Regions from separate parts of the Homo sapiens genome. Here region 1 is linked to region 2. Evidence: fine-mapped expression QTL. A gene starts in region 2. The other region holds a variant in brackets. All regions are shown on one strand. Distances are from middle to middle. Region 1 has its middle 36 kb from the start of RNF128. Region 2 holds the start of RNF128 (ring finger protein 128).

Evidence for each region. PIP is the estimated chance that this variant, and not a neighbour inherited with it, causes the effect.
Region 1: its variant is fine-mapped to the expression of RNF128 in lung (TOPMed, PIP 0.94).

What each region holds. Positions count from the first base shown.
Region 1 is chrX:106,684,454-106,696,904 of GRCh38, forward strand. It overlaps a transcript of RNF128 not described here. Among named protein-coding and RNA genes, the nearest start is that of RNF128, 36 kb to the right of the region's middle. The variant A/G (reference allele first, on the strand shown) is at 8,723.
Region 2 is chrX:106,723,342-106,731,341 of GRCh38, forward strand. It overlaps RNF128 (ring finger protein 128), which reads left to right and starts at 3,360. Exons shown (of 7, transcript NM_194463.2): 1 at 3,360-4,056. The coding sequence starts at 3,573. RefSeq lists an enhancer at 3,207-3,795.

The DNA.
Region 1 (12,451 bases), 37 kb before region 2:
GCATCAACGCCATCCAAGCAAACATTACCTCACCAAATGAACTAAACAAGGCACCAGTGACCAATCCTGAAGAGACAGATATATGTGATATTTCAGGCAAAGAAGTCAAATGAGCTGTTTTGAGGAAGCTCAAAGAAATTCAAAGTAACATGGAGAAGGATTTCAGAATCCTATCAGATAAATTTAACAAAGAGATTGAAATAATTTTAAAAGAAGCTGAAATTCTGGAGCTAAGAAATGCAAATGACATACTGAAGGATGCATCAGAGTCTCTCAACAACAACAAAAAGATCAAGCAGAAGAAAGAATTAGTGAGCTTGAAGACAGCCTATATGAAAATACAAAGAGAAGATAAAAGAAAAAAAGAATAAAAAAGAGTGAAACACACCTACAAGATCTAGAAAATAGCATCAGAAGGGCAAATCTAAGAGTTATAGGTCTTAAAAAGGAAGTAGAGAGATCAGGGTGGAAAGTTTATTCAAAGGAATAATAATAGAGAACTTCCCAAACCTAGAGAAAGATAGGAATATTCAAGTACAAGAAAATTATAGAACACCAACCAGATTTAACCCAAAGAAGACTACCTCAACGCATTAAGTAATAAATTTCCAAAGGTCAAGGATAAAGAAAGGATCCTACAAGCAGTAAGAGAAAATAAACAACTAACATACCAAGGAGCTCCAATATGCCTGGCAGCAAACTTTTCAGTGGAAACCTTACAAGCCAGGAGAGAGTAGCATGACATATTTAAAGTACTGAAGGAAAGAAACTTTCATCCTAGAATAGACTATCCAGATAAAATATTCTTAAAACATGAAGGAGAAATAAAGACTTTCCCAAACAAACGGAAGCTGAGGGACTTCATTGACACCAGACCTGTCCTGTGAAAAATGCTACAGGGAGTTCTTCAATCCAAAAGAAAAGGATGTTAATGAGTCATAAGAAATCATCTGAAGAGACAAAACTCACTGGTAATAGTAAGTACACAGAAAAACACAAAATATTATAACACTGTATTTGTGGTATCTAAACTACATATATCTTGAGTAGAAAGACTAAGAGATGAACCTACCAAAAATAAAAACTACAACAACTTTTCAAGAAATAGATAGTATAATAAAATATAAATAGAAAAAACAAAAAGTTAAAACATGGGAGGATGAAGTTAAAGTATAGAGTTTTATCAGTTTTCTCTTTGCTTGTTTGTTTGTTTATTTATGCAATCAGTGTTAAGTAGTTATCAGTTTAAAATAATTAGTTATAAAATATCATTTGCAAGCCTCGTGGCAACCTCAAATTAAAAAACCTACAACAAGTACACAAAAAATAAAAATCAAGAAGTCATAACACCAGAGAAAATCACCTTTACTAAAGGGAACACAGCAATGAAGGAAAGAAGGAAGAGAAGACCACAAAACAACCAGAAAACAAATAACTAAGTGTCAAGAGTAAGCCCTTAATTATCAATAATAAGATTGAATATAAATGAACTGAACTTTCCAATCAAGAGATAGACAATGGCTGAATGGATGAAACAAAAAACAAGACCCGATTATCTGCTATCTATGAAAAACACACTTTACCTCTAAAGACACATGTAGACTGAAAATAAAGGGATAGAAAAATATATTCCCTGCCAAAGGAAACCCAAAAAAGAGCAGGAGTAGCTATCCTTACATTAGACAAAATATATTTCAAGACAAAAATTGTAAGAAGAGACAGAGATCATTACATAATGATAAAGGGGTCAATTCAGAAAGAGGATATAACAATTGTAAATGTATATGCACCCAACACTAGAGTATCTAGATATATAAAATAAATATTATTAGAGCTAAAGACAGAAAGACCTCAAAAAATAATAGCTAGAGGCTTCAACACCCTACATTCAGCATTAGACAGATCTTCCAGGCAGAAAATCAACAAAGAAACATTGAACTTAATCTGCACTATAGACCAAATGGACCTAATAGATACTTACAGGACATTTCATCCAATGGCTGCAGAATACACATTCTTCTCCTCACCACGTGGATCGTTCTCAATGATAGACCATATATTAGTCCACAAAACAAGTTTTTAAAATTCAAAAAATAATGAAATTATATCAAATATATTTTCTGCCCACAATAGAATAAAACTAGATATCAGTAACAAGAGGAATTTTTGAAACTATACAATCATATAGAAATTAAATAATATGCTCCTGAATGACCCATGGGTCAATGAAGAAACTGAGAACAAAACGAAAAATGTATTGAAACAAATGATAATAGAAATACAACATATCAAAATGTATCATATACAGCAAAAGCAGTGCTAAGAGGAAAGTTTATAGCAGTAAGCACCTACATTTTAAAAGTAGGAAAACTTCAAATAAACAACCTAACAATACATCTTAAAGAACTAGAAAAGCAAGAGCAAACAAAATCTGAAATTGGTACAGAAAAGTAATAAAGATCAGAGCAGAAATAAATGAAAATGAAATTTACAGAAATACGAAACATCAATGAAACAAAAACTCGTTTTTTTCAAAAGATAAATAAAATTGACAAATCTTTAGCTAAACTAGCTAAGAAAAAAAGAGGGAAGATACAAATAAATAAAATCAGAGGTGAAAATAGGAAACATTTCAACTGATACTACAGAAATTTGAAGGATCATTTAAGGCTGCTATGAGCAATTATATGCCAATAAATTGGAAAACTTAGAAGAAATGGCTAAATTCCTAGACTTATACGACCTTCCAACATTGAACAATGAAGAAATCCAAAACCTTAACAGGCCAATAACAAGTAACGAGACCTAAGCCATAATAAAAATTTTCCCAGTAAAGGAAAACAGGAGACCAAATGGTTTCACTGCTGAGTTCTACCAAATATTTAAGAAGAACTAATACCAATTCTACTCAAACTATTCCATAAAACAGAGAAAGAGGGAATACTTCCAAACTCCTATGAGGTCAGTATTAACTTGATACCAAAACCAGGGAAAGATAAATCAACAAAAAGAAAACTACAGGTCAATATCCCTGATATATATTGATGCAAAAATCCTCAACAAAATACTAGCAAACCAAATTTAACAACACATTAAAAAGTTCACTCATCATGACTAAGAGGGATTTATCCCAAGGATGCAAGGATGGCTCAACACACAAAAGTCAATCAATGTGATACATCATATCAACAGAATAAAGGACAAAAACCACATGATCATTTCAATTGATGCTGAAAAACATTATGATAAAGTTCACATCGCTTCATGATAAAAACCCTCAGAGAACTGCATATAGAAAGAACATACCTCAACACAATAAAAGCTATATATAACAGACCCATTGCAAGTATCATGTTGAATGGGGAAAAACTGAAAGTATTTCCTCTAAGATCTGGAACATGACAAGGATGCCCACTTTCACCATTATTCAACATTGTACTGAGAATCCTACCTAAAACAATCAGACAAGAGAAAGAAATAAAGGGCATTTAAATTGGCAAGGAAAAAGTCAAATTATCCTTCTTTGCTGATGATATGATCTTGTAGTAGGAAAATCTAAAGATTCCACCGAAAACTACTAGAACAGATAAATAAATTCAGTAACGTTGCAGGATACAAAATCAACATAAAAAAGTTAGTAGCATTTCTATATGCTGATAGCAAACAATCTGAAAAGGAGACCAAAAAATTTATTCCACTTAGCAAAGCTAAAAACAAAATAAAATACAGAGGAGTAAACTTAATCAAAGAAATAAAATACCTCTAAAATGAAAACTATAAAACATTGACTCAAGAAATTGAAGAGGCCAAAAAAAAAGAAAAGATAGTCCATGTTTATGGATTGGAAGAACCAATATTGTTAAAATGTCCACAATACCCAAAGCGATCTATGGGATTCAACACAATCCCTACTAAAATACCAATGACATTCTTCACAAAGAGAAAATGAAAATTCCTAATATTTATATAAAACCCCACAAGATTCAGAATAGCCAAAGTGATCATGAACAAAAAGAACAAAACTGGCGGAATCACATTACCTGACTTCAAATTGTACTACACAGCTATAGTATCCAGAACAGCATGGCACTGGTATGAAAACAGACACAGAGACCAAAGGAACAGAATAGACAAACCAGAAATAAATCCATACATCTAAAGTGAACTCATTTTCAACAAATATGCCAAGAACCTACATTGGGGAATGGACAGTCTCTTCAATAAATGGTGATGGGAAAACTGGATATCCATACGCAGAGGAATAAAACTAGACCCTATCTCTCACCATATACAAAAATCAAATCAAAATCAATTAAAGACTTAAATCTAAGACTTCAAACTCTGAAACTACTGCAAGAAAACATTGGGGAAACTCTCCAGGTCATTGGACAGGGCAAAGATTTCTTCAGTAATACTCTACAAGCACAGGCAATCAAATAAAAAATGGACAAATGAGTTCACATCAAGTTAAAAAGCTTCTGCACAGCAAAGGAAGCAATCAACAAAGTGAAGAGACAATTCACAAAATGGGAGAAAATATTTGCAAACTATTCATCTATAAACTAGGGATTAATAACCAAAATATATAAGGAACACAAGCAACTTACAGGACAAAATCTAATAATCCAATCAAAATGGGCAAAAGATCTGATAAAAGATTTCTCAAAAGAAGACATACAAATGGCAAGCAGATTCACGAAAATGTGCTCAACATCACTGATCATCAGAGAAATACAAAACAAAGCTACAATGAGATATCATCTTACCCCAGTTAAAATGGCTTTTATCCAAAAGACAGGCAATAATTAATACTGATGAGGATGTGGAGAAAAGAGAACTTTCATATAATGTTGGTAGAAATGTAAACTGATACAACTACTATAGAGAACAGTTTGGAGGTTACTCAAAAAACTAAACTAGAACTGCCATAAGATCCAGCAATCCCACTGTTAGGTCTACATACAAAAGAAAGGAACTCAACATATCGAAGATATATCTATACCCCTATGTTTATTGCAGCACTATTCACAATAACCATGATTTGGAATCAACTTAAGCGTCCATCAACAGACGAATGAATAAAGAAAATGTGGTATATGTACATAATAGAGCACTATTTGGCCATAAAAAAGAATAAGATTCTGTCATTTGCAACAACATAGGTAGAACTGGAGATCATCATGTTAAGTGAAATAAGCCAGGCACAGAAAGACAAACTTTGCATGTTCTCACTTATTTGTGGAAGATAAAAATTAAAACAATTGAATTCATGGATATAGAAAGATAAAGGTTGGTTACAAGGCCTGCAAGAGTAGTGCAGAGGGAAGAAGCAGGGATGGTTGTTGGGTACAAAAATATAGTTAGATAGAATGAATAAGATCTAGTATTTGATAGCACAACAGAGGAACAATTTGTTGTACATTTACAAATAACCAGAAGAGTATAATTGGATTGTTTATAACACAAAGTGAAGATAAATGCTTGAGGTGATGGATATCCCATTTGCCCTGATGTGATTTTTACACATTGCATGCCTGTATTCAAATATCTCATGTTCCCCATGAATACACCTACCCACACACAAAAATTTTATTTTCAAGTTTAAGTTATGTACTTCAACCTCCAGTGCAATGTAACATAATAGCTTAGGAATGTTCTCTTATTACACCAACACTGGCACAAGATGTTATGGGAAAGTTGTCATTGTTTAAAATTTATTTTATTTGTATTTTTTTAAAATATATATATAGAGAGACGGGGTTTTGTCTTGTTGCCCAGGCTGGTCTCGAACTCCTGAGCTCAAGCAATCCGCCAGCCTCAGCCTCCCAAAGTGCTGGGATTACAGGCATGAGCCACTGCACCCATCCAAGTTGTCCTTTTTTCAGAACTTAATGATTTAACTTGTGCAAAAATATGTCAAGATTTGAAACTAGTATGTTCAGATTATTTAACAGGGAGCCAGTGGTAAAGGCCTGGGTGTGTCTTCCTACCTTTCTCCTTGTTTGTGCATACAATTACACTTCTTTGTAAAGATGCAAAGAAGGCTTGGTTTTATTACCAAAAGAAAGTCATAGTATGCATATTATTCTTTAATTTGCTTTGCTTTCCATGGGTATAAGATCTTTAATAACATGTAATAAAATACCTTTGGGGCATTTGCTACAAATATTTCCCCAATGTATCACTGCCTATTTAAAATAGTTCAATATTGTTGAGTGAGCAAATGTTCCACTTTAATTTTTTCCACTGATATGACAGTCTTTTCCCTTTCACAAGGTTTAATAAATACCCAGGTCTGTGTCTGCTGGTTTTAAAAAATTCTTAATTTTTCAAAAAACATTATTACTTAATCCAACTGTAATTTATTTGGGTGTTTTGTGAGGAGGAAATGAGGAGCAAACTGATTATTTTCCTTCTTTAACTGACTAGCCAATTGTCCCATCACCATTTATTGAATGGTGCCTTCTTGGGTTGTTTTGTTTTGTCTTGTTTTGTTTTTTGAGACAGAGTCACTCTGTCACCCAGGCTGAAGTGCAGTGGTGCAATCTCAGCTCACTGCATCCTCGACCTCCCAGGCTCAAGCAATCCTCCTGCCTCAGCCTCCCGAGTAGCTGGGACCACAGATGCACACCGCCACACCAGCTATTTTTTTTTTGATAGAGATGGGGTTTCATCATGTTGCCCAGTGTGGTCTCAAACTCTAGGGCTCAAGCAATCTGCACGCCTCTACCTCCCAAAATGCTGAGATTACAGGCATGAGCCACTGTGCCTGGCCTTTTTGTATTTTTTATTGATAGATTATAGTTGTGCATATTTATGGGGTACATGTGACATTTTGACACATGCAATGTATATCGATAAAATCAGGGTAATTGGGATATCCATCACCTCAAACATTTATCTTTTCTTTGTGTTGGGATCATTACAATTCTTCTCTTCTAACTGTTTTTGAAATATACCATACACTGTTGCTAACTATATTCACCCTTCTGTACTATCGAATACTAGAACTTCTTCCTTCTAGCTAACTGTATTCTTGTACCCATTAACCAACTTCTCTTCATCCCTCCCTCCTCCTTCCCTTCCCAGCCTCTGGTAACTACCCTGGAGACATGGGAGGAGAAATGAGGCAGGAGAGCTTTTCCTTAGTGTATTTTTATCCTGAATTGTTTCCTGAATACGTAAAATGTGTTAAGATTTTTTAAATGTTCAAAACTTCAACCTATTAAATCCACTGAAAAAAACTGTTAGGATATAATCTTAAACACAGAAAAAGTTATTATAACAAAATGATAATAGCAAAAATATTATTTAAAATTTTGACCAAACAAAAATGGAATGACTAAGTAAACCGAGGTATTTCCATTAATGGAATATCATTTATCCAACAAAGCATTGTCTACAAAGATTATAAGATAAAATATATAATGACTGAGATATTAAATGAAAAACTAATTTAAAAATATATAAATATGATCATGTAACTAAGAAAAAATCCCTACACAAAATAATGAAAAGAAATCTTAAGATAAACAAAGAAATATTATTTTTTAAAATTTGACTTCTAATGGATTTAGGTAACTTCTCATTAATCTGCTTTTAAAGTTTTTCATGAGAAGATTTTTTAAGGAGTAATTTAATTGGCAGAAAAGGATAGATCAAATTTCTGGGATTTTACTAATTATTTAAATGTTGAATGTTGATGTTGAATTTATCACAAAAGACTGTCCATCAGCAATCTCTAAGCTAATGGTTTTGACAACATTTATAATAACAATAATAACATTTCTGTTTTTAGTCTGATAATTTTCTCTGGTGAATACAGGCTTTATTGTGATCCTAAAAACACATCAAAATGATAGGGCTAGTAGCAAAATAATGAACTATTTGTGTTTACTCTTAAATTGACCATAAGCTAATACACAAGACCTTTAATCTTTTCAGTTCAATTATATGAATTATTAGGCTGTTACTAGGTGTATGATGCTAGTAGTACCAGGTACTATGGGAGGGTACGCTAATGAGTAATTGGCAGCTATGATATGATAGCAAGGTTCATATTTGTATTATACATCTGCTGGGATTTATTCAGCAGGTTCTGCTGCTGATTCCCTGAACTCCTTCCCTCTGCTGAGTGGTGTGAACTGTTAATTCTCACCTGCAGGGTCCACTCCAACACTGATATTTCAGATGTTTAAAAGCGGACAAGAAGTAGGGAGAAGAAACAGCTTCATTGACCACCTCCATCAACAACGTCTCCTATTTTTTTATTTTCGGTTGTCCTGTCCCCTTGACTCTAGTAAACCTTCCTGATTCCAGATTACCTGACTTGGACCTTGGACTACCATTGTCCCTACCTTCCTTTTGACCTGGTAGCTTTTTGCTTCCCTGGAAGCCTGATGCCTGTTTGTCTAGTTTGCTGACTCTTGGCCCAGTCAGACTCCTGATATCTCTGTTTGTCTTGTTCGTTCATCTATTCCTTCATCAGCCCTTGGCACACATTGCAATCTCCCCATCCCAGCAATTTTCACAGACCAGTTGACCCCGTAGCGTATGTGTCCTAATGCTCTTAGTGTCCAGTGTGCTCCTGAATAAAAACAGAGCTTGAACTAAAGGAAGCAATGAAACAAATAAAGTTGTCTATACATCTGGGAGAACTAAAAATTTAAAAATGTAAATGTTAAAAATTAAACCTTCAACAACCTTTTTTAGAGTATAACAC[A/G]TGGGGCACAAAAATTAATGGAATGCAGCAACTTGCAGGTATCAATCAATCAACAAATATTTGAGTGCCTGCCATGGGCAAGGCACTATACTTGAAAGGAAAGGAATTCTAGCTACTGAAATATGTTTGTTTTCCAACGAATAAACAAGGTAACAGAGGATATCCCTTGGGGAGCCTGCTAAGAAAACACACACACACACACACACACACACACACACACACACAGAGAGAGAGAGAGAGAGAGAGAGAGAAATTAGAAGAGAAAAAAGCAATAAAATTCATTCTACTAATGCCATAGCAATTAAACTCATGGATCTTAACTTACTCCAGGCTGAACTGGTTGATAGCATATTTCAGCAGGGCTTGGCAAACCAGTTTAGTGTTTTAGATATTCTGAGAGAGGTAACTTTCAGCCTTGTCACGTGGGATTCCCCAGAGTCCAGTTCCTCTTTCCAATCCACTCCATGTTTATGAAAGTGCATTAGTTGGAACAGTAAGAAGAAAAAAAAATGTACTGCAGGAAGTCATCCAATCCTAATAAGTTGACATGTAGAATAAAGTTGATGGTGTTATTTATTACTAAGGTAGTCCTGGTTAAGGGTTACCTGTGTGTACAGCTGGAGGAGGGGCAAGCAAAGGGGAATGTAGATAACTAAAGTGAAATAGAGCTGATGTATCCAGAGGTTATGTTGCTAGAGGTGAGATCAGTTACCTACGTGCAACTGAAATTTCAAACTTCTGTTCAGCAGGGACGTGAGTGGACAATGGTGACTGATAGTTGGAAATATCAGCAAACATCTTAAATTTTATACTCAAATGAATGAGCAATGAACCAGGAGAATAGGTCCAGTTTTTTTTGGCTCCTTGTAATTTTTACCTTTTTACTTAAAATTACAGCATCTTTTTCAATGAGTGCCTATGTGACTGTGACTTATTACAATGAAACCAGCAACTACACTGCAATAGAGACATGTGAATGTGGCGTTTATGGATTAGCTTCACCAGTGGCTAATGCTATGGGAGTGGTAGGCATCCCTAAGAACAATAACTACCAAGCTTGTGACCACAACACTGAGTTTAGTAATACTAAGAAGCCCTGGATTGCGCTGATAGAAAGAGGTAATTGTACATTTTCAGAAAAAATTCAAACAGCGGGCAGAAGAAATGCTGATGCTGTTGTGATTTACAATGCTCCAGAGACTGGCAATCAGACGATACAGATGGCAAATTTTGGTAAGTAATAATTGATTCACAAAGAGAGTTAATGTCCGTTTATCTTAGAATGGTATTTCCATCTAGAACTGGTCTAGGATCTGGCAACAAGGTTGTAAAATAATTTTACTTTAAATTTTCTTGCCTGGCACAACTTGTAATTACTTTATTATTATTTAATATTTTTAATTAATTTGTTCCAAAGACAGTAGCAATTCATGAAGTGATTCCTATTTTCTTTCATGTTTTCTTAGCAATATAAGTTTCCTCAGTGGGCATTATATCGTGAGTTGCTTTTTAATAAACTGTGCCTTTACCTCTAAACATTAAAAAATTTAATTTCATTATTAATTTGCACTTCTCAGTTTGATTTATTTTCTCCTGCAAAAGGGATTGTATGTTTTCAAGTTTGTGAAACTGCAAAACAGTTTCATTATGCTTAAATAATAGCATATTATAAGTGTGTAAAATGTTATAGAAATGAGAACTTGACTCTACTGTATGCTTGTAAGATTTGAATCTTTTTGCGGGACTGATACAAACGAATCTGCAAAAACGTGATATTACCCATTGAAAAGTGTATGGCAGAAATAGGATAACACTGTAATTAACAAAGAAAATAAAGATTTCCCTTAGAAATATTTACTAATGGCTTCTTAAGTAAATAGAAACTTCTAATTTATTAACTTTTTAAAGGAGTTACTTCTGAAAATCACTGGTTTTTATTTATTTAAAAAAACAGTTTCCAAGTAAATAGATTTTTAAACCAATGAAGAAGTAAACTTCTGAACCCCATTTTGTTCACTGTGGATAGGTATGTGTGTTTTTATCAGACTTGGTCTAAAAAAAAAAAGGAATAATTTCAATCAAGGCAAGCGCTGACAGTAAATGAATACAAAATTTTGATAATTGGTGTTATTGCCAAATTTGGCCTCTAAGAAAATTAATGCAAATTAAATTAAACAGATTTTAGAATTATGAAAAGGAGAAAATCAAACTTATGTTAAGAATAGTATGGTGCTTGGAATGTTCCAAGTTGTACACATACAATATCACTGTTTGGTACTAATATTTGAAAACCAAACTGCTTATTTCGCTAAGCATCAAAAAAACAAGTAAGATGAACTTCAGCAGTACAAAATTATTGTAGATGTAACAAAACTCCATGTGCTACCTTTTGTGACACATCCTGGACACTGCAAGAGCTCAGACATTCACATTTTATATTATTTTCTAGCTAAGAGCATTTCATAAGCATTCCCTGCCTGTTCCTGTGTTTTTACGAGTGACTTTCATTTTTGTAGAAAGAAACTAATGCCATTTTCTGATAAAACTTAGGAATTAAATCTGTTCTAAGGAACCAACTTGCTATACATTTAAACTTAGAGATCCTGAATACTCTGGGTTTCCTTTTGCATGAACACATTCTACTTATTCACTCTCCTGCTATTTTTGAAATACAAACAGTATCAAACTAAATAGTAGTCCTGTTTTCAAAACTTTCTTTGCAACCTGTATTAGGGACCAATATCTAGTAGAATGTAGGTACCCTGCCAGTAAATTTGAAATATTTACCAAAGATCACTCACAGTAAATCTCTCCAAAAGAAACATGTGCATAATCATTTGAATATGTGACTCTGAACAGAGTTTTAAAAAGGAGGCAGTTAGACTTATCATTCAATATATACCTCCAATATAACCAAAGACACATGATCAAAAATATTTTAAAGCTACAGTATTGCACCTATTTTAAAATAAACACATTGAAAAAGATAGCATAATGATCATAACTGTGATAGTTAACATTTACTGGCATTTACTATATTTCAGGCACTGTTATAGTGTGTTTATTTAATGAACATTGTTTTTTAACATATGATGATATCAACCCCAAAGAATTAAAACTAAATTTGGAATTTTGCCCTTTTAAGACCTGCCAAATAGTGTGCCATTGGATTTTTTCCTTCCTAGAAATTTCCTTTATATAAAAACTATTCAGTGATGCAGCTGACAAACATAAGGAATCAAGTGTGGATATGAAAACTAGATGACCAGACACTAGATCATTAAAGACTGTCATTATTTTATGCCAACATTTTGTTTGTTGTTGCTGTCTTTTCACTCGTGTTTTGTTTTGTTTTGACACAGAGGATGGGGGAAATCCTCCTACAATAAAGCTCACGATTTCACCTTCTGTCATCTCATCTTGTATTACCCCCTAAAAACCACCTTTTCAGAAAATCACACTGTAGCCCCCTCAGGCCCTTGTACTCTTCTACTCTTCTCTGGCTCCCCCTACCTCTTCATTCCTTCAGTCCCATTATCCTGTACTAGGTCTTACTAAGCACTTCCACAATGTTGTGTCTCTCTGCTTCTTTCTAATGTCAGTGCTCTCCAGCCAAAGACCGCTAGCAACAGACCTGTAGTTTAAAAAGGTAGATTTATTACTTGTTGCAGCAATTGGAAGAGCACACACCATGGAAAACCACAGGGCATCCTACTAAGAGGGTGTTAA
Region 2 (8,000 bases):
GCAGATCATGAGGTCAGGAGTTCGAGACCAGCCTGGCCAACATGGTGAAACCCCGTCTCTACTAAAAATACAAAAATTAGCCGGGCATGGTGGCACGCGCCTGTAATTCCAGCTACTTGGGAGGCTGAGGCAGGAGAATCGCTTAAACCTGGGAGGCAGAGGTTGCAGTGAGCCAAGATCATGCCATTGCACTACAGCCTGGGCAACAAGAGCAAAACTCTGTCTAAAATATATATATATATATGTATGTATGTATAATTTTCTAAACTTTTCATGTTCTGGCACAAGTTATTTGACTAGCTTCACTTCCCTTGGCTCCACCTTTGCAACTTTATATCCCAACCATACCGAACTACTGAATGCTAGTTCCCTGAATGTTCTTTGGAGTTCTCATATAATATACTCTTGCCTGTGCCTGAAAATCCTTACTCTCTTTGCTTGGGTCACTCCATTTGTACTTAAAGACTCAGTCACACTTGTCTTGCCCTAGCGCCTTATACTTTTCTCAGTCATAACATGTATTACACTGTACTGTTATTGATAGTTTATCTCTCTGATTGTCTCACTAGACCATGAGCTCATTGAAGGCAAGGGCTGTTTCTTTTGTCTCTCTACACCCCTGTCTCTCCCATGCTTTGCACTTAGTAGGTGTTCAGTGATCGGAAACTCAACTGCCTATCACACAGTTCTACCTGGTTACATCATAGGCACCTCAAAATCGACATATCTAAAGTGAACTCATCTCTCCTTCTACCCATTCTATACATTTAAAACCCTCCTCCTGTATTCCCTGATTGAATGTCATCTAGTCTTCCAAGTCAAAAACCTCAGAGTAATTTCTAACTCCTCCTTCTCTTTCATCCCCCAAACCAAGTCCTGTTGATTCTACCACCAAAGAACATTCCCATTCTGCCCACTTCTCTTCATGTCCACTACCTGTCTATCCAAGCCATCTTCATCTCTCACCTGTAGCACTGCCAACCATCTTCTGTATGGGCTCCCTGCTGCTATTCTCATTCCCTCCAATCTATTATCCACAGAGAAGGATCTCTAAACTTCAGATCTGATTCTATTACTCCCTGATTAAACCCTGATTATATTACTCCTCGTTTTTGGATAAAGTCTAAACTCCCTAGCTTTACCCAAAGGACTCTCAAGAACTGGCCCCCATGTACCTCTCCAACATGATCTGTTACCACCCTCCCTCTGTTACTTTAGGTTCCAACCATTTTGCATTTACTGGGCCTGTAGTAATTGTAGCTTCCTAACATTTCTTTTTCATATTTCAATGCCTTTCCTTGTGTTGTTTTCTGCCTAGAAAAGTTTACTGTCTCAAACTCAGCCCAGGTCTAACCTCCTCTGGGAAGCTTTTCCTTACTTCTCAGTCTGGGTTAGGTGCTTCTCTGTTATCCACTACTACCCTGTCATATCTCCATCATAGTGCTTACACTATATACATATATCACTCTATACTGCACTTTCCATTTTACTTGTCCTTCTCATCAAAACTAATTTATGAGCTTCTTGATAGGAGAGTTGATGTCTTATTTGATTTTGCACCACAATGCTCAGCCCATGGCTTATGGCAGATGTACAACAAATATTTAAGAAAATAATGAATGGAAAAACATTAATAAATGTCTCTCTGAACTTCATTTTTGTAGCTATAAAATACCTTCTTTCTTCTGAACACATTGTTTCTTCAAAGTACAATATAGTTGGCTGTCATTCAGGTAATATCAATTGAATTTTGAATGCTCTTCACCAGCAAAATCAGACAATTTCTGGAATTGTACCATTTCTCAGAGGTGGTTGGTCCTACCCATTTTTCCCCTAGGTAATTTTTATCTCAGAGATTACCATCAGTATTTGGGGGTACCATGCTATTGGTCTCATATACCCACTTTGACCTCTAAAGTCCTTTTCAATACCTAAGAGTATATGTTTCACAAAATTGCACATTTATTTATGTTCTAGGTGTTGTTTGGTATATGATGTTAATTTTCCTCTAGGTTTCTCTCAAGCCATAAGAGTATCAAGTACAGAATTGGTCCATGCTTAATCTTTGTAAATAACATTGATTAAGTAAATGCTGGGCCAGGGATTGAGGGGAGTAATTGATCAGAAATTTAACAAATGTTGAGCTGCATAAAGTAGACTGTATTTATTTGAACTGAAAAAGTGGCTAAGACTGAACATCTTGAACATCATTTTCTCTGATATTACCTCAAATTAAAACTTTAATATTATTTTAGAATTGTGTCTCTGAACCTGTTTAATAATTTTAACATGTTTTTTATATTGCTAAGCATTGTTCTAAGTGCTTTATTACATGTATTAACTCATTTAATCATCTGAAAACTCTGTGAGGTAGGTGCAATTATTATCCCCCTTTTACAGATGATGAGGAAACTGAGCCACAGGGAAGTTCCCCAAGGTCAAAAGTTATTCATAACTATCAGACAGCAGGTATATTAATTCAGCTTAATTCAAGGCTCATTTGTTAACCATCTAGTAAATATAATAGTTGACAGGGTAGACAAAAATTGAATACTTAAGCAAGGATAAATCGTAATGTAATAATGCCATGAGTGAATCGCCTAGGCGAGTCAGGCTCCTTTCAGTTAGTGGGAAATGGAGAAAGATTATGTAGTTAAGGTCATGAATAGCGCAGGAACATCCGCTAGGGTAAGTCAGGTTTGTGAAAAATGCAGAAGAAAGGCTTGGTTCTGAGGTGTGTGAAAACAGTCATTCTTTTGTGAGGACTAAAATTAGTTTTAGAAGAGGCATCTGATGCGGTACATGAAACCTAGGGTAACGGTGAGGAAATACACATGTATGAGGCTTCTTAGGAGCAGGGAAAGAGAAAGGTGCCATTTGAAGTCAGTAAGAAAGGGTAACAGCGCGCTTTTCCTGCCCTTCCCCCCTCTAGAGAATCAGTAAATAGCCTGATTCTACTCAAATTCCTTCCCTACCCAAATTCCCTTGACTACAACTCAGACCCTTTGGATCTGCGCTTTTTAGAAGTACTGTACTTCACATTCTGGCACCGTAAGCCCGAAATGTCCTTTAGGCAAATGTTAGGAGGGAAAAATGTATTCTTGCAATTCAAAACCGACTCGAATCCTGCCAGAAAGCTTTATGTTTGCGGACTTTATCGTTCCTCGCCTGTCCGTTTTTTATAAAACGACGCGACACACCTAGCCACACAGCCTCAGATCCTATTCTAACATCGATCCATCCTGTTACCCTTTTAAGAGGCGGATCCCGCAGTGTCCTTTCCTCCCTCCCAGCCACCTCTACCCCCAGTCGGCTGGGCGGAGCTTCACGCTAAAGCCCCAGAGCCCGACGCGGCAGCCGCGGTAGCGGAGAAGACTGGAGCTCCGAGGAGCTGCATCTGCGGCAACCTGTGTGCTGACGCTACGTGCCTCCTGGCTCCGACGTAGCTCGCAGCTCCCCAGTCTCACTCCATTCCTTCCCCACCTGGCGCGCACCTGCTCAAGACCAGGGTCCTGCCAAGCGCTAGGAGGGCGCGTGCCAGGGGCGCTAGGGAACTGCGGAGCGCGCGCGCCATGGGGCCGCCGCCTGGGGCCGGGGTCTCCTGCCGCGGTGGCTGCGGCTTTTCCAGATTGCTGGCATGGTGCTTCCTGCTGGCCCTGAGTCCGCAGGCACCCGGTTCCCGGGGGGCTGAAGCAGTGTGGACCGCGTACCTCAACGTGTCCTGGCGGGTTCCGCACACGGGAGTGAACCGTACGGTGTGGGAGCTGAGCGAGGAGGGCGTGTACGGCCAGGACTCGCCGCTGGAGCCTGTGGCTGGGGTCCTGGTACCGCCCGACGGGCCCGGGGCGCTTAACGCCTGTAACCCGCACACGAATTTCACGGTGCCCACGGTTTGGGGAAGCACCGTGCAAGTCTCTTGGTTGGCCCTCATCCAACGCGGCGGGGGCTGCACCTTCGCAGACAAGATCCATCTGGCTTATGAGAGAGGGGCGTCTGGAGCCGTCATCTTTAACTTCCCCGGGACCCGCAATGAGGTCATCCCCATGTCTCACCCGGGTGAGTGCAGCTACTAGATTGCACCCCTCCAGACCTCTGCCATGGCCAGTTTCTCTTATTTTCCTCATTGCCCTCCTCGTCCTATCCCCTTGCTCCGAAGGAAAGTGGGTGCTCTTTCTGTCCCCACGGAGTGGGGCAGGGTCCTCCCCGAGATTCACCAGGCCTGGGTGTTGGGCAAAAAAAAATCCTTCATTTGCCTCTCTGGTGGAAAAGGGTAAAACAAACCGGGTGCAGAGGCTGGCAAATCAAGGACTGTTTGAGCTCTTTGCGTTCCCTTTTCCTGGTTTTTCACAAGGGTGTCTAGCCTTGGATTAAGTGGTGGTGGGCATCGGGTCTTAAATGACCGAGGAGATCACCTGGAAATCTCTTCCTCACTCTGCTTTTTAACAACCTCAGACTGGCAGCAGATTTTCCCCTCCTCTCCCTGTTTTTCTCTCCATGTTTCCTGGGTATCAAATACTAGATTGTGCTACTGTGCCCTGTTAACCTCATTGCAATTTTGGTGGAAACTTTGCTTAGTTCTTGGGTTCTTCTCTGCCCAGTGGTCTCAAGTCCCAAGTGACTTGGTATCAGTGCTTTTGTTTGCTTCTGAAAAATCTGATTTAGGTTATTGAGTTGCAAAACAGGTGACTAACGTTCTTGAAAAAGAAGAGGTTTCTGCATGAGGATAGCAAAGGCCTAGACTTTGGAAAAAAAAATAGTCCAGGTAGTTCTTAAATTCTTGGAGATGGTATGAGGTTACTATTTTTCCCCGTCGGTTATCCTTCCACAAACTTCCCTATTTGTGATTAGGTATCCATACCTTATGTATATAGTTATCCTAGACCCTAAAGGACAAAGGGGAAAAAAATGGAGAAAAAGAAAGAGACACGTGTAATAGCAGTGTATCATAGTTTTTAAGAGCTGGGCCTCAAGTCAGAGCTTGGTTTAAATTCCTACTCTGTTGCTTACTAGTCCTGTGACCTTGGGCAACTTATTTCAAGTCTTAGAGTCTGGGTTCTCTCATCAGTCAAATGAGAATGAATAATAAGAAAACTTATCCACAAGTTTGCCTTCAGGATAAAATGAAATAATGCCTTAAAGAGTTTAGTGCAGTAAAGCACATCATCCACTCTCAGTAAGGGTTAGCTGATAGGATTAGCCTTCTGGGAGTCACTGGAAGGAAGAAGCTGCTTATTTGACTACTGGAGGTTTTCTGTTTTTCTTAAAACCTTATGACTGAACCTGCCTAGAGAGCACTTGTATTGAGTGGCTGGATGGCGTAATGGAAAGAACACTGAATTGGAACTCAGGAGATTTGAGTTCTTTTAGCCCCTTCTTTGCCTCTACCGACTTTGTAACCTTGTACAAGTTACTCACATGTCAAATGATTGTATAGGCAGTGGAGGCCAAGTTAGAAGCGTGTACTGAAACAAAACAAAAGTAGATGAACTCTAAGATCCCTTTCAGATCTAAAATGCTATGATTTTTAGTTTTTATATTGATTAAAGGAGAAACTGTATCTCTCTTGGCCGATAATTCATTGATTAGAATGAATCAGTAGCTTTTAGAAGTTACTGAAAATCAAGAATAAAGACCTAATAAAGTTTATAGTCTTTATATTTCAGTTGACTGTCTAATAGCAAGGGTTTGACTTTGTCTTCTAATGAGATTCATTTGCATGAATGATTTGTAATTGAAGAGTATTTAATTACAGAGTCCTACTTAGACCATTTTCCTTTTACTTCTGTTAAGGGTATTTATCTGATAGTTTTAGGAGACAATAAAATTAACTTTTGCTTGGCTCCCACTATATGCCAGGCACTCTACATACATATTACTTATACTTTATTGAGAGGCAATATGGTGTACTAAGAAAAACACAGGCATTTTAGTCAAGATTGGGAATAAAATTCTGGATTTACCACACAATAGCTTTGTGTCCTTGGTAGGATTATTTAACTTTACTGAGCCTTGGATACCCCATCTGTAAGATGGAGATAATATTTATGTTGCTGTGATTATTAAGGATTATATATATATATACTACCCAGCTGATAATAGTCACTGAATGTTATAATAGGTTAATGCTAACAGGATGCAAAAAAATAATGTACAAATGTATGATTGTGCAACTGTCGATTTGAAGACATGAATACACTGAGAATCTAACTATGGGTGTTGTGTTTCAGGATACCATATAGGAATAAAGCCCTAAATATTGATCACTAAATTACACTACATTCAGAAAAGCATTTTGATACTTTAAAAACAATATTATCTGAGATAAAGGCTATACCAAAGTTTGCCATCAAGCTAACTAGATAAAACCAGCAAATTACTTGAGGTAAGGAATCACATTTCTCCTTGAACTCCTGGAAAAACTATTTTTCAATATAGGGGGAAAATCACTGCATATTATCCACATGTGTTATTGAATATTTGTTTGCAAAGTGTTATATTGTTTGCTTTACTCATTCCTCAGAGTAAGCCTAGGGTTTCCTTTTAACCTCTGGTCAAAAACTTATCTTGGATCATAGTGGCAGAGAGATAGGACTGAGATTTAAGTATGGATTAGTTCATTATATATTGCTGTGAATTACGAAGGGGCCACCAAATGTGGAAAAGCCTTCTGTATCTTCTTTGTTTACAAAATCTCTCTTCACTCACTCTCATAGGGGCCTGCACTTGAATTGTTTGCCCTTGGTTAGAGTTTGTGCTGAGTGTCTATATTCCCACCTAACTAATTTAGAACAGTTGCTTTAAAATTTTTGTTTAGGAGAAAGAAACTCCACTATATAAGAGCAATCAATTAGGAAAATGAGACTTTTATGTATACCAAAATTTTTCAAAAGTTAATTGTAGCCTAACATCAACTCATGCAGTTTATTTCTGTATTTTGTTTGCAGAGTATTCAGAAAATTCTGATTCACACAGATAAATAATTGCAAATGACAGATGCTTATTGGCAGTTTGGCTTGCAATCTCTGGATATATTTCAATCAAATCAGTGCAGAAACCTGAAAGGAAATTAGGAGAAAATTTTTATTCCAAAGTGTAATTACTATTCAAATTTCTTATCTTAAAAATGAAAGTCAGATAAGTGGCCAAATCTTAAAGTAAGCATTAAAACCATCTAAAATGTAAGATTGTCACGAGACACGTTAAGCATGTTCTCACTATTGCACAACAAACTGTTCTGCTTACGCCAGGCAGATGGGCCTGAGCTTTGCCTGGTGTCTAATTGAGCACAACCCACAGGTTGAAGAGATATGTATACTTGCTTGTACAATTTTCCTTGAGTCAACATTGTAGGCATGAATTTATTGAAAGACTGGTGCAGAACTACAACCTTCATAATTCATGAAACATTTACAACGTTATGCATAAAACATATGCAAAGGGATGTCAGGAGAAGCATTATTCCTGAGGGCTGTAAAAAAAAAAAGTGAATGAACCAAGCAGTTTAATTAATGATTTGGGGGTCTCCAATGGGATACAGTTTGATATATAACACAGTTGCTTGTGTACATTGTTGAAAGATAGTGGAACAGATTAGTTAAGAGGTTGTGCTCTGCCAATTAGTATTTTTTAAATCTTAGGCCAGTTATTTTACTTCTCTAAGTCTCAGTTTTCTCCTATGTAAGGTAGGCATAATAATAAACTTGCCTCCTAAGGTTGCTGGGATTCAATGAGATAATGCAGATAAAGCGTTTAGCACAGTGTCTGACATATAGGAAGCTACTATTATGTTTTAATCACAGTTAAATATATTTTAGAAAATGAAAGTTGAATCCTGTGTTTGTAGAACATAATTGGAAATGAACAGTCTAGAGTACTTCAAAGTCCACATTACCTGAAATTCTAATTTGATCCCTTTAGGTACGGAGGGTAGACTGAATTTTAACAGGAAAAAGATCTTTTGGTCCTCCTATGTTTGTTGTACTTTTCTCAAATAACTGCTT